2 linked regions of the Homo sapiens genome follow. The protein of the gene in region 2 interacts with the protein of the main gene of each other region in a biochemical or structural test. Each region holds a gene or a part of one and is shown on either strand. Other genes may lie near its edges.

The links. Proteins that work in one complex are often made in the same cells at the same time.
Region 1: the proteins of TJP3 (region 2) and PATJ form a complex in vitro, tested with the Homo sapiens proteins (2 studies listed by BioGRID and IntAct, with this or other methods).

What each region holds. Positions count from the first base shown.
Region 1 is NC_000001.11:62,157,820-62,164,415, reverse strand, and holds the end of PATJ (inaD-like protein), read right to left. Parts: intron 3,509-6,596; coding exon 3,362-3,508; 3' UTR 501-3,361; downstream 1-500.
Region 2 is NC_000019.10:3,703,251-3,711,996, forward strand, and holds the start of TJP3 (tight junction protein ZO-3), read left to right. Parts: upstream 1-5,133; 5' UTR 5,134-5,311; intron 5,312-8,746. UniProt on the Homo sapiens protein: TJP1, TJP2, and TJP3 are closely related scaffolding proteins that link tight junction (TJ) transmembrane proteins such as claudins, junctional adhesion molecules, and occludin to the actin cytoskeleton.

The DNA.
Region 1 (6,596 bases), on a different chromosome or scaffold from region 2:
ACTCACACAGAGTCCACGAGTAGAGGAGAAAGAGATTCACGTTCAGGGAGGCCAGCCAAGTTGGCTAGAACATGTAGTGTCTGGAAAGGAGGGAGCTGTAGGTTGACAGAGCCATGGAGATCGCCTCTTTGTCAAATACTCACCTGCACATGCATGAAAGGGCCAGGAAAGAAACATTAGAGGTTGGCTGGGCATGGCGGCATGGATCCTGAGCCACTGCGCCCATCCTAATTTTTGTATTTTTAGTAGAGACAGGGTTTTGCCATGTTGGCCAGGCTGGTCTTGAACTCCTGACCTAGGTGATCCATCTGCCTCGGCCTCCTAACGTGTTGGGATTACAGGCGTGAGCCACCATGGATTCCAGATTTTAACAGGACACCAAAAAACCTTGTGAAAAGTTGGACTTTTTTTTTTTTTCTATTAGGGAAGAAAATGCTGAAGAAAAAGCACAATTAGATCCAGAAAGTACACTTTTTCATATATAATAAAACTCCATTTGCTCTGTAGGCAACTACATTTATTTAGAATCTTTGGAAATATCTTACACATACAAACATTCAGCAGTTTTATTCTTCCTGGCTTACTTCCCTCTCATGCTAATTCCGATTAGTGATATCATTACTATACTGAAATGGCCCAAATGATGAGGCCAAATATAAGAGCACTACTTCTTTCACAAATTTCCATCTTCATAGCCTCTCAGCTTGTCAGTAAGTTCTGAGGCAAAAATATCTTTTTGGAAAGGCAATTACGTATTAGTCATGTGAGCGGAGACAGAACCGATTATGACAAGTACTAGTTCTATCAATTTAGTGCAGTAAGAAGTATAAAGCATCATAATTCCTTCATCAATATACTTTTACTAGCACGACCTAAAAGGATAATGTATAAAGAAACACCACAACAATGTATTATCTCAAAATGTGTATTTAATGGCCATTCCATCAAAATAAAGCAGAATCCCATTTCAAAACTATTATATGTATATATATTTTTAAGGTGCATTTTCAAGTTTTATTTGGGTTTCATTTCTTCTTGGCTTGCCTGAGGTGTTCTTGCAGGTACAATTAACACAAAATGTTCTGAGGGTAGTAGCTTTTCATGCACTGAAGAATGAGATCCTAACAACATTGCACATCTTGGATACATTAGAAATTTTAAAAGCCATGTGTAATTTCAGAAAACTTAATACCGTCATGAAAGACATTTTCAACACAAAATTTAGGCACTCTATACTTTGGAATAGCCATAAAATATTCCAACAAGAGTTAATGCACTTTGTGATTACATCTACTCAAAGATAATTCTCAATTAAAATCTATACTTATTAAATAACATTTTAAATTAGAGCCCATTAAATTTTGATAATTACTGTGAAATATTTGCAGCATTGTGTTGTAGTTAAATAATGCTGAACTACTTCTATTACTGACTCTAGTACTCATCCTTCATGGTTTTTTTTCTTTTTCGAGACAGAGTCTTGCTCTGTCACCCAGGCTGGAGTGGAGTGGCACGAACTTGGCTCACTGCAACCTCCACCTCCCAGGTTCAAGCAATTTTCCTGCTTCAACCTCCGGAGTAGCTGGGATTACAGGCGCCTGCCACTGCACCCAGCTAATTTTTGTATTTTTAGTAGAGACAGGGTTTCACCATATTGGCCAGGCTGGTCTCGAACTCCTGACCTCATGATTCGCCTGCCCTGGCCTCCCAAAGTGCTGGGATTACAGGCGTGAGCCACTGCACCCGGCCATGGTACTTTTAAAAACAGAGGACTCTATAGCATCCACCAGTAAGCATCTCTCCCTTTTTCTTGCTAATATATGAATAAGATTGCCAATAATCAACTTAAAGGTATTCTTGTATTTTCTGCTGTAGTTGATTTCTTAGCATGCAAAACTTCAGCAAATGGGAGTCTCCTTGGAGATCAGGAAACATCAGCCATGCATTTTCATCACATATTCCTAGGCTCAATTCATTTGCTCACTTTGCAGCTAAGTATGTTGCTCCCTTAGGTTCTTGCAGTCCATGCTGCTGGCCTGACTACTATGGAGGTAAAGGGAAATATAATCAAATATGTCACCCACTTTGCATAAGGCCAAGGCCACCTAGACCTTGTCTGACTTGAGACAAAACTTGCTGATCTCTGCCGTGTGGTTCTGGGGCTTCTACCTCCTTTTCCTAAGACCGAGGGGTGGGAATGATGCCTGCCAACTGAAATGCCATTAATTCCAGGTGATCTTCCTGGACTTGAATGTAATTTAGCACTGTTAGAATTCAGAACATGTATGCTAGTTGTTCCTGCTGAGAATAAGGTTCATTTGCTCAGTGGTATGCATTTATATGGCACAGAAAACAATTAGTCTTTCAGAATTTTTAGAAGATTACAGTCTGTAAATTGACTCATCAAAATCACCAATGACTAGCATATAAAGATCTATCCAGAGAAATGAATTTGAGACTTATTTGACCATAAGTCATACAGAAGACAGCACAGTAATTTCCCATAGGAGAATCTGGTATTTCATCTTGGGGATCACTGGTAAATTAATTACACTGCTAATGTTTTCTTGCTTACTTGAAGAGACAATTAGCATAAGTAAATCATGAGTGAGATGACAAGTTGCTTAACATTTGTTTCTGTCCATTGGATGAGATCTGAGGTTGCTGTTAAGCCTCGGTGTGAGTAGGGGATAGGGAGAGAAGAGTATAAGGAAAGAGAAGTTAACTCCAGTTTTGGTAAATATAATCAGAACCAGTTGGTTAAAATCAGAATACTGGGCTGGGCGCAGTGGCTCACGCCTGGAATCCCAGCACTTTGGGAGGCCAAGGCAGGCAGATCACCTGAGGTCAGAAGTTCAAGACCAGCCTGGCCCACATGGGGAAGCTCCATCTCTACTAAAAAAACAAAAATAAACCCAGTGTGGTGATGCATGCCTGTAATCCCAGCTACTCGGGAGGCTGAGGCAGGAGAATCGCTCCAACCTGGGAGGCCGAGGTTGCAGTGAGCCAAGATTGCGCCATTGCACTCCAGCCTGGGTGACAGAGTGAGACTCCGTCTCAAAAAAAAAAAAAAAAAAAAAAAAAGAAATCGGAACACTGAAATTAAATGCAAAACAGGTAGACTCATTTAAGTTTTAGAAATCAACCTCGCCAACAGGTGACAGGAACTGGGAAACATTAGGAGATGATTGTTGATTTGGGAAATTCACATGAAACCTCAGCCATTTCTCCTGAGCAGAGAGGGCAAGAAATAAGAATGAAGGTGCATTTTAGTTGAGGGTGCTTTTCATACCCACTCAGAACTTCATCTGCCTGTGGATATTCTAAACAACAACATCTATCTTGTGATCAGGCCCGAGGCTCATGACAGCACAGTTAAGGTTACAGTCCCTCTCTGGTGTTTTAGAATGGCGACTGCTTGCTCATGAGTAACACCTTCCAGGGTCTCGCCATTAACAGCTAAAATCTGATCCCCTCGTTTTAATCGGCCGTCATCTGCAGCTGCTCCCTACAAACAAGAAACATTTCAGTTTAATCCAGGGTAAAACACAGTTTATATTAAATTGATATTAAAACCTCTAACATCTGTCTGGTGTGCATATTAAAAGAGTAACTTTAAAAACTACCAATTAAGTTTTTTCTAGGTAATGTTTTAAATTAGGAAAAAAGTAAGATATGCTGTTTGAATAATAATGGTTGAATAGTAACTATAATTATGGATAATCTAAATAACATACTAGTAGAAATGTACTGATACACTGCTTTTAATACAAGTAGAACCTTATTTCACTATTTAGTATTAAATGGAATTGGATGTCATATCATGTCCTATTCATGAAAACGTAATATACAGAAAAAGGCAGATAGAACTGAATCTGGTGTTAGTCTTACTGCAAATACCACCATTATACAGAGTTCCCATTGCATTATTAAGCTATCAGCACTGTGATCTGTCAAAAATAAGTGTAGTCTTTAAATGGGTGAATTGTATGGTAAGTGAATTATATCTCAATAAAGCTGTTATCTACATATAAATATATACGAGTGTAGCATCTCTAAAATTTTGTAATATATTCAAAACCTTCCACTTTATCTTTGATCATCTAAATAGGTTTCTAAATGACTACTTTTATTATATACTCAGTCATGCATAGTTCCTCAAAACGGCACAAAGCCAGTGAAACTTCAGGGTTTTTTCACTCTAAAGCTGCATATCTAAAAATGCCACGATATTACTAGAAACATTTTGGACTGGTAAGGGAAGAAAAGACCTTAAAAAATGATTTACAGGAGGTTTCACCATCTGTAGGGGTAACTGTTTCAGTCCCTTGAAAAGTCAGTGCCAGAAGAATCCTCTAAATGAGGTCAAACTTCAGTGGGCAACCAAAGCCCACAGGCACTTGGCCCTCGACCGACTCAATCAGAAGCCGAGCTAGGAGGCACTAACGCTCCTGAGATCTGTGTCCATGTGCAGCTTGGAGGTCCTGAGGTGCTGGGGAATCAGACAGGTTTTCTAAACCGTGAGAATGGTGGAATTTCTAAATGAATGTGCAATAAAGAATATTCAAAACCTGCTGGGTGCAGTGGCTCATGCCTGTAATCCCAGCACTTTGGGAATCTCAGGCGAGAGGATTGCTTGAGCTCAGGAGTTTGAGACCAGCCTGGGCAACATGGTGAAACTGTCTCTACAAAAAATTAGCCAGGCGTGGTGGCTTATGCCTGTGGTCCCAGCTCCTCGGGAGGCTGAGGCAGGAGGATCACTTGAACCTGCAGAGGTTGGAGTGAGCTGAGATAGTGCCACTGCACTCCAGACTGGGTGACAGAGTGAGCTCTGTCTCAGGAAAAAAAAAAAAAAAAAAAGTATTCGAAATCAGGTCTATACTGTGGGCAAAATATCAAAACTAAATATTAATAACTTGCAACTGGCTGGACATGGTGGCTCATGCCTGTAATCCCAGCACTTTGGGTGGTCAAGGCAGGAGGATCACCTGAAATCAGGAGTTCAAGATCAGACTGGCCAACATGGTGAAATCCTGTCTCTACTAAAAATACAAAAATTAGCTGGATGTGATGGCGCATGCCTGTAATCCCAGCTACTTGGGAGGCTGAGGCTGGAGAATCACTTGAACCTGGGAGGCGGAGGTTGCAGTGAGCTGAGATCATCCCATTGCACTCAGCCTGGGCAAAAAGAGTAAACTCTGTCTCAAAAATAAACCCCAAAACTTGCAACTTCACTCAAATCTTTTAAGAAAGTAATGTGTCAACTGTATTAAAGACAAAATTAAACAAGTAATTTTACTGGATAAAATCAGAATTACTAGGCAAAGTTGATTTTATTAAATTTTACATGCTAAGATTTAAGGGCTTCAGTAAATCTCAGATATCTGTGTAAATTAATTTTTTAAAAACTATGTTAAGCTATTTATCTTTTTTAGTAATGCAAGGAAAGAATTTTTAAATTTTTTTGAGAAGGAGTTTCACTCTTGTCGCCCAGGCTGGAGTGCAATGGTGCGATCTCGGTTCACTGCAAACTCCACCTCCCAGGTTCAAGCGATTCTCCTGCCTCAGCCTCCCAAGTAGTTGGTATTACAGGCGTCTGCCACCAGGCCCGGCTAATTTTTGTATTTTTAGTAGAAACAGAGTTTCACTATGTTGGCCAAGCTGGTCTCGAACTCTTTTTTTTTGTTTTTTTTTTGAGACAGAGTCTCGCTCTGTCGCCCAGGCTGGAATGCAGTGGTGCAATCTCGGCTCACTGCAAGCTCTGCCTCGCCGGTTCACACCATTCTCCTGCCTCAGCCTCCCGAGTAGCTGGGACTACAGGCGCCCGCCACCACGCCTGGCTAATTTTTTGTATTTTTAGTAGAGACGGAGTTTTTTACCGTGTTAGCCAGGATGGTCTCAATCTCCTGACCTCGTGATCCGCCCACCTTGGCCTCCCAAAGTGCTGGGATTACAGGTGTGAGCCACCGTGACCGGCCTGGTCTCGAACTCTTGACCTCAGGTGATCCACCTGCCTCAGCCTCCCAAAGTGCTGGGATTACAGGCATGAGTCCGTGCCCAGCCAGGATGATTTTTTAACTTTCTAGGATTTGGACTTCTTCCAGTGTTGCAGTGCTTGGTTGATGAGCACTTACTGATATGTATCTACTCTCCTACTTTACCAATGCCGCATTTGTAGACTACAGGGAAAAAGGTAAAAAAGAAATAAATGCATGGCTTGAAAACCTCTACCTACTTTGTAATTGTGGCTCTTTACTCACTTGCTATTTGTCCCAAGTTGGTCACTTAGTCTTCTCAGATGCCGTAAAATGGGCATCTACTATCTACCTTGTGGCCTGTTCTAAGGATTAAATGTATGACATATGGCATTTACTCAACGTGGTGGTAATATAATAAAATAAAACACTAGTGACAACCAAGTTCATGGCTCAGATTTCATAGGCTCTGAAAAACTGCTCCTGAAATTTTTAGAGTTGCTGAAGTGTTTAGGTCAATCTCTTATTGGCTTAGGGTAACATTCAGCTGCTGAAGGGACTAAGACCTAAGGCTGGCTTGGATTATTTTTTTTTTTTTTTTTTTTTTTTGGAGACAGAGTC
Region 2 (8,746 bases):
TTAGACATGGTGAAAATGGGCCGGGCGCGGGGGCTCACACCTGCAATCCCAGCACTTTGGGAGGCCGAGGTGGGCGGATTACCTGAGGTCGGGAGTTCAAGACCAGCCTGACTAACATGGAGAAACCCCGTCTCTACTAAAAATACAAAATTAGCCAGGCGTGGTGGCGCGTGCCTGTAATCCCAGCTACTCGGGAGGCTGAGGCAGGAGAATCACTTGAACCCGAAAGGCAGAGGTTGCAGTGAGCCAACATGGCACCACTGCACTCCAGCCTGGGCGACAGAGCAAGACTCTGTCTCCAAAAAAAAAAAAAAAAAAAAAAGAAGAAGAAGAAGAAGAAAGAAATGGTGAAAATGGGCCGGGTGCGGTGGCTCACGCCTGTCATCCCAGCACTTTGGGAGGCCGAGGCTGGCAGATCACCTAAGGTCAGGAGTTCAAGACCAGCCTGGTCAATGTGGTGAAACCCTGTCTCTACTAAAAATACCAAAAAATTAGCTGGGCATAGTGGCACAGGCCTATAATCCCAGCTACTCGGGAGGCTGAGGCAGGAGAATCACTTGAACCTGAGAGGCAGAGGTTGCAGTGAGCCAACATGGCACCACTGCACTCCAGCCTGGGCAACAGAGCAAGACTCGAAAAAAAAGAAATGGTGAAAATTGTGAATTGTATGTTGTGCGTATTTTACTACCATTTTTTGTTTTTTCTTTTTTGAGATGAGTCTTGCTCTGTTACCCAGGCTGGAGTGCAGTGGCGTGATCTCGGCTTACTGCAGCCTCTGCCTCCCAGGTTCAAGCGATCCTCCCACCTCAGCCTCCCAAGTAGCTGAGACCACAGGTGTGTGCTACCATACCTGGCTAATTTTTGTAATTTCAGTAGAAATGGGATTTCACTGTGTTGGCCAGGCTGGTGTCAGGTGATCTGCCCACCTCGGCCTCCCAAAGTGTGAGGATTACAGGCGTCAGCCACTGCAGGCGGCCTTGACCATTTTAAGGCTCCAGGAAGAGTTCTTTGGACGCAGGTCATGGACAGAGCTCCTGATTCACCCAGAATCTGTTTTGAAAAAAGATTTAGACCACTGGCTCTCAAGGTGTGGTCCCTGGGCCAGCCACATCAGCCTCACCCTGGGAGCTTGTTAGAAATGCAGGTTCCAAAGCCAGGTGCAGTGGTTCATGCCTGTAATCCCAGTGCTTTGGGATTGAGGCTGAGGCAGGAGAATCACTTTAGCCCAGGAGTTCAAGACCAGCCTGGGCAACATAGCAAGATCCCATCTCTACAAAACAAATTAAAAATTAGTCTGGCGTGGCCAGATGCAGTGGCTCACGCCTGTAATCCCAGCACTTTGGGAGGTTGAGGCAGGTGGATCGCCTGAGGTCAGGAGTTCGAGACCAGCCTGACCATCACGGAGAAACCCTGTCTCTACTAAAAATACAAAAATTAGTCGGGCATGGTGGCGCATGCCTGTAATCCCAGCTACTTAGGAGGCTGAGGCAGGAGAATTGCTTGAACCCGGGAGGCAGAGGTTGCAGTGAGTCAAGATCTCGCCATTGCGCTCCAGCCTGGGCAGCAAGAGCGAAACTCCTCTCAAAAAAACAAAAATAGCCTGGCATGGTGGTGCACACCTGTAGTCCCAGCTACTTGGGAGGCTGAGGTGGGAGGATCGCTTGAGCCCAGAAGTTTGAAGCTGCAGTGAGCTATGATCACACCACTACAGTCCAGCCTGGGCAACAGAGCGAGACCTGGTCTCAAAACAAACAATGAAAAGTAAAAGAAATGCAGGTTCCTAGGCCCCCACCCAGACTTCACACACCAGAAACTGGGCAGAGTAGGGTGGTGGGAGGGCACAATCTGGGTGTTCATGACTCCTCCCTTCCAGGCAAACTGGGTGCCAGATAAAGTTTGGGGGAAGGGGCCAGCCACGGTGGCTCATACCTGTAATCCCAGCACTTTGAGAGGCCAAGGTGGGCGGATCACTTGAGGTCAGGAGTTCGAGACCAGCCTGGCCAACATGGAGAAACCCCATCTCTACTAAAAGTATAAAAATTAGCCAGGCGTGGTGGCATGCGCCTGTAGTCCCAGCTACTTGGGAGGCTGAGGCAGGAGAATCACCTGAACTCAGGAGGCAGAGGTTGCAGTGAGCCGAGATTGCACCACTGCACTCCAGCCTGGGCGACAGAGCGAGACTCTGTCTCAAACCAAAGAAAAGGAAAAGAAATGCAGTTTCCCAGGCTCCAACGCAGACTTCACACACCAGAAACTGGGCGGGGTGGTGGGGGTGGTAAAATCTGGGTGTTCATGACTTCCCCCTTCCAGGCAATTTGGATGCCAGATAAAGTGGAGGAAGTGCTGGAGGTTAGATCATTGATGAGGATAATGAAGAGGAAATATACTTAAAAAAAATTACTAAAACTGGCTGAACAGTCATGACTTACAGACGCAAAAGTCAACATCAAAACAAGCAGTTAAAAGCAGCCTCTTGGCCGGGCGCGGTGGGTCACGCCTGTAATCCCAGCACTTTGGGAGGCAGAGGTGGGTGGATCACCTGAGGTCAGGAGTTTGAGACCAGCCTGGCCAACATGATGAAACCCCACCTCTACTGAAAATACCAAAAAAGTAGCCAGGCGTAGTGGCACATGCCTGTAATTCCAGCTACTCGGGAGGCTGAGGCAGGAGAATCGCTTGAACCCGGGAGGCAGAGGTTGCAGTGAGCCGAGATGGCGCCACTGCACTCCAGCCCGGGAGACAGAGTGAGACTCCGTCTCAAAACACAAAAACAAACAAACAAACAAAAAACTTAAAAAAAAGAAAACTAGGGCAGGGATGGGGTGACAGGAGGGGAGAGGCAAGGGACAGAGAGGAGGGGCTGGGGTCCGGGAGAGCCACCAGCCTTCTGTGCCTTCCCCGCATCCCCCCACGCCCCTGGTTGGCTGTCCCCATTACGCAGGGTGGAAAACCGAGGCTGCCCGGCGGGGGCCGGTTGCGTGGTTTCTGGCGCCGCCTGGTGGCCATAGTGGCTACTACCGTCAGCAGGAGGTACTGCAGGCTGGAGGGACCCTAGTCCATTCATTCCAAAAACATGTATTGAGCACCTACTGTGTACCAGGCACTGTGCTAGGCCATAGGACACGGCAGGGATGAGCACGACAAAGTCCATGACCTCTGTGAGGTGGCATTTTAATATTTATTTATTTATTTTTCAGCCAGCGTCTTGCTCTGTCTCCCAAGCTGGAGTGCAGTGGCGCGATCTCGGCTCACTGCAACCTCTGCCTCTGGGGCTCAAGCGATTCTCCCGTCTCAGCCTCCTGAGTAGCTGGGATTACAGACGCATGCCACCTTGCCCGGCTAATTTTTGTATTTTTAGTAGAGATGGGGTTTCACCATGTTGGCCAGGCTGGTCTCGAACTCCTAACTCAAGCAATTCTCCCACCTCAACCTCCCAAAGTGCTGGGATTACAGGGGTGAGCCATTGAGCCCAGACTTAATTTTTTAAATTTTAATTTTAATGTACTGGTAAAGATGGGGGGGTGTCTCACTATGTTGCCCAGACTGGTCTCGAATTCCTGGCCTCAAGTGATCCTGCCACCTTGGCCTCCAAAGTACTGAGATTATAGGTGTGAGCCATCATGCCCAACCCTTCCTGGTTAATTTTATTTTATTGAGATAGGATCTTGCTCTGTCACCCAGGTTGGAGTGCAGTGGCACAGTCATAGCTCTCTGCAGCCTCAACCTCCCAGGGTCAATTGATCCTCCCACCTCAGCCTCCTGAGTTTCTGGGACTACAGGTGTGTACCACCACATCTGGCTAATTTTTAAAAAAGTTTTCTGGGCTGGGCGTGGTGGCTCACGCCTGTAATCTCAGCACTTTGAGAGGCCAAGGCAGGCGGATCACCTGAGGCCAGGAGTTCAAGACCAGCTTGGCCAATATGGTGAAACTCCGTCTCTACAAAAATACAAAAATTAGCTGGGCATGATGGCTGGTGCCTGTAATGCAATCCCAGCTACTCGGGAGGCTGAGGCAGGAGAATCACTTGAAACCGGGAGGCAAAGGTTGCAGTGGGCCGAGATCAAGCCATTGCACTCCAGCCTGGGCAACATAGCAAGACTCTGTCTCAAAAAAATAAAAAAAAAATAAAATAAAAACAAAAAACAAAACAAAACCAACAACAGCCAGCAGCAACAACAAAAAAACTTTTCTAGGCCAGGCTCGGTGGCTCACGCCTGTAATCCCAACACTTTGGGAGGCCGAGGCGGGCAGATCACTTGAGGTCAGGAGTTTGAGACCAGCCTGGCCAACATAGGAAAACCCCGTCTCTACTGAAAAAAAAAAAAAAAATTAGCTGGGCGTGGTGGTGCACGCCTGTAATCCCAGCTACTTGGGAGGCTGAGGCAGAAGAATCACTTGAACCCAGGAGGCGGAGGTTGCAGTGAGCCGAGATCGCGCCACTGCACTCCAGCCTGGGTGACAGAGGGAGACTCCATCTCAAAACAAACAACAAACAAAAGATATATAAAAATTTTTCTAGAGATGGGTTTCACCGTGTTACCCAGGCTGGTCTCAAATTCCCAGGCTCAAGTGATCCTCCCACCTCGGCCTCCCAAAGTGCTGGAATTACAGGTGTGAGCCACCACACCTGACCCTTTCTTGTTTTTTAGATGAGGACAGCAAGAAGCCCCTGTAATTTGCCCAAAGCCACACAGCGGGGAAGTGGCAGAAGCTTCTGTACGTAGGAACCCAGTCACTTCGTAGCAGAGAGGCAGACTGCGCACAGATCTGCGTGGGGAAGGGAGTGCGCCAAGCCACAGCCTGATGGGCCGGCGTGCCTGGCAGGAGGCTCAGCAAGCACAGAGACTGGGCAGCTCCAGATGCAAGAAGCAGGAGGGAGGGGGACTCCGGGAGTGCGGTCCATTCATGTCTGAATGTAGCCAACGAGGGTTTCCTAAGCACCTACCATGTGCGGACGCTTGATACCAGGGCCTCGGCGGTGAGGGCACAGGCAGGAGCAAGCTCACCTCTGGGCAAGCAGGGGTTAAGGCCAGTTGCTCCCACGTGAGGGCACCTTGCGACAGAGCCACACACCCAGTCCTCCTGCTGGCCCGCCCCTCACCCTGGTCCGTCTCCCTGTGTCTGTGGTCGTCAGTTCCACTGGCAGGGGACCTGCCTCCCTGTTGCCACCACAAGAGAGGAAAAGTTGGTCAAACAGGTGGGGAGGCCAGAGCTACAAGCCTCGGGTTCCCTCCCCACCACCCGTGCCAGGCAGGCACCCGGGCCCTGGCACCTGCTGCCTGCCCAGAGGCCACCCAGCCTCCTAGACAGGTAAGTCCCCCGCCCCACTGTGCTTTTCCACCCAGTGTGCATTGTCTGAGCTGGCCTTCCCCAGCTGAGGGTCCTTAGACTCCCCCCCAACCTCCCCCACCACGAGCTGTCTCCCCGGCTCCTCGGAAAGCAGGAAACTGACACTCCTGCGTGGGCATCTGACATAGTTTCGTAGGGATTATCTGACCGGCAGTTACTGCACCTGGCGGCCTGCCCAGGACGCTGAGCTGGAAACTTAAAAGGGTCATTGTTACCTAGGTGGCGCAGGGACCGGGGAGGCGGCAAAGGGGCACAGGTTGGTCTCTGATCCCCCTAACTGAGGAGGGGAGGGGATATCAGTCCAGACGGAGCCTGGGTTTACCTCCTGCAGCCCGAGGCTAGGAGGTGACAGGTGGGAAAGGCTGCGACCTCACTCATCTCTGAGCCTCCTGGAACTTCTTAAAAGGCTCCCAAGTTTTGAAACAACTGCGTCTCCCGCCCCCCAACCCCTCACCCTGTTCTCACCGCTGGAACCTCCAGGAGCTTTGCAGGGAGGGATTGGGGTGGCCTTTCTTTTGCTAATTTTTTTTTTGAGACGGAGTTTTGCTCTTGTTGCCCAGGCTGGAGTGCAGTGGTGCGATCTTGGCTCACTGCAACCTCTGCCTCCACCTCTGCCTCCCGAGTAGCTGGGATTACAAGCGCCCACCACTATGCCCAGCTAATTTTTGTATTTTTAGTAGAGATGGGGTTTCACCATGTTGGCCAGGCTGGTCTCGAACTCCTGACCTCAGGTGATCCAACCCCCTCGGCCTCCCAAAGTGCTGGGATTACAGGCGCAAGCCACTGCGCCCAGACTTCTTTTTCTAATCTTTACTCCTCCGAGCAAAATCTCTGTGGGATGGGGCAGAGGGGAAGGAGGAAGGAGCGCTCAGAGCCAGAGAGGGGAGGGGTCGGCAGCAAAAGTGTTTTTCTGGGTCATTTGCTCCCAAATGGGAAGACCAAGGGAGCTTCCTCGTGAGCCAAGTGTCCGATTGCATCTCAAGTCTCTCTCCAGAACCAAGAGGGTCCCCCGGGGCCGAGGAGGCATGGATGATCGCATAGTGGGGGACAGAGCGGCCCGGCATTTGGGGTCACCTTGTGGCTGTGTGGCTGCAGAGCTCCCAGGGAGCAGGCTTGCTTGAGATTCGGGAGTCCGTGGGGGTGGGCGACATGGATCCCACCTTGCCTGGGTTTTGAGAGCAAACCCGTGGACTCAGTTAGATCTGGCTTCCACACCTCCCTTCTCTCCGGGCCTCTGTTTCCTGCTCTGTAAAATGGGGATATTGAGGGCCGGGCGCGGTGGCTCACGCCTGTAATCCCAGCACTTTGGGAGGTCGAGGCGAGTGGATCACAAGGTCAGGAGTTCGAGACCAGCCTGGCCAACATGGTGGAACCCTGTCTCTACTAAAAATACAAAAAATGAGCCGAATATGGTGGCAAGCACTTGTAATCCCAGCTACTCCGGAGGCTGAGGCAGGAGAATTGCTTGAACCCAGGAGGTGGAGGTTGCAGTGAGCCGAGATTGTGCCACTGCACTCCAGCCTGGACAACAGAGTGAGACTCTGTCTCAAAAAAAAAAAAAAAAAAAGGGGTGGGGGGATATGGAGTCACCAAGGCACAGGGCTGTTGAGTGCCGGATGTAATAAAGCGGGTAACAGATTCTCGGTCATTCTGGGGTCAAGACGAGCTATCCCGGTCCGAATCGGAGTCTGGTCTCATCAGCTTCCTGGTTTGTAGAGGATGAACCCTGGCTCAGAGAAGGACAGCCGCTTACCCCGGGCCGCACAGCCAAGTAGAAATGTCAGGCGGCCAAGAGTCAAGACGCAGAGGACAGGGAGCTGGTGGCGGGGGTGGTGCTCTGGAGGCTGGCCCTGCCCCCAGCTGATGCCTCAGGCTCAGCATCTCGAGAAAGTCCTGCCCCCTGGCTTGGTGCTTCCTCGTGGCCCTGAGTCCCGGGGAAAGTCCAGGGCAGGGAGTATGGGTACTTGTTCTTCCTCTTTAGGGCTGGCCAGGGGCCAGGGGAGCTGTGTTTGCTCAGGGTGGAACCTGACACCCTTTGGAATGGATTGAGGTTAGCGGAAGCCTAGGCTGGGGGGAGGGGTCGCCCAGGGAGCGAACGGGCATTTATTGTGCACTTACTGTATGCGCGAGTGTGGGGTCACCAGGCCTTGGAGATTCAGCAGTGAGCAAGGCAGGCCAAGCTTCCTGCTCTCGTGGGGCGCATATTTTGGTGGGGAAAGACAGACATGAAACAAGAGCGCAGTAATGGAGCCAATGGCTGCACAGAGGGTAACATGCGTGAGAGGCGCTTTGTAACTTTATTTTACTTTTTATATTTTTTTGAAACGGAGTCTCGCTCTGTCGCCCAGGCTGGAGTGCGGTGGCGCGATCTCGGCTCACTGCAAGCTCCGCCTCCCGGGTTCACGCCATACTCCTGCCTCAGCCTCCCGAGTAGCTGGGACTACAGGCGCCCGCCACCACACCCGGCTAATTTTTTGTATTTTTAGTACAGACGGGGTTTCACCGTGGTAGCCAAGATGGTCTCTCCTGACCTTGTGATCCGCCCACCTCAGCCTCCCAAAGTGCTGGGATTACAGGCGTGAGCCACCATGCCCGGCCTTATTTTATTTTTTTTTGAGATGGAGTCTCGCTCTGTTGCCCAGGCTGGAGTGCAGTGGAACGATCTCCGCTCGCTGCAACCTCCACCTCCTGGGTTCAAAGCGATTCTCCTGTCTCAGCCTCCCAAGTAGCTGGGATTACAGGCGCCCACCACCACGCCCAGCTAATTTTTGTATTTTTAGTAGAGACAGGGTTTCACCGTATTGGTCAGGCTGGTCTCGAACTCCTGATCTCAGGTGATTCGCTCGCCTCGGCCTCCCAAAGTGCTGGGATTACAGGCGTGAGCCACCGCGTCCGGCCAAAATGAAGGGAGAGCTTTAAATGCTGGCCTGAAGACATTTGGCTTTATGATATTAAAGGATATTTTTTCCCAAAATAGTAAAATCATTACTCTCATACAAATACAAAATGAGGCCGGATGCGGTGGCTCACGCCTGTAATCCCAGCACTTTGGGAGGCCGAGACGGGTGGATCACGAGGTCAGGAGTTCAAGACCAGCCTGGCTAACATGGTGAAACCCTGTCTCTACTAAAAGTACAAAAAAAAAAAAAAAGGTGCTTTATGTGTCTGCTTAATTCATTAATTAATATGGGAACCGGTAAGACTTTATAGCCTATACAGAGGGGAATTAATTTGTTTCCTTTCTTTCTTTTTTTTAAAAATTGAAAATAGAAATGGGGTTTTGCTGTGTTGGCCGGCCTGGTCTCGAGCTTCTGGGCTCAAGTGATCTGCCAGCCTCAGCCACTCAAAGTGCTGGGATTTCAAGCGAGAGCCACCGACCCGGCCTCAGCATTCTTG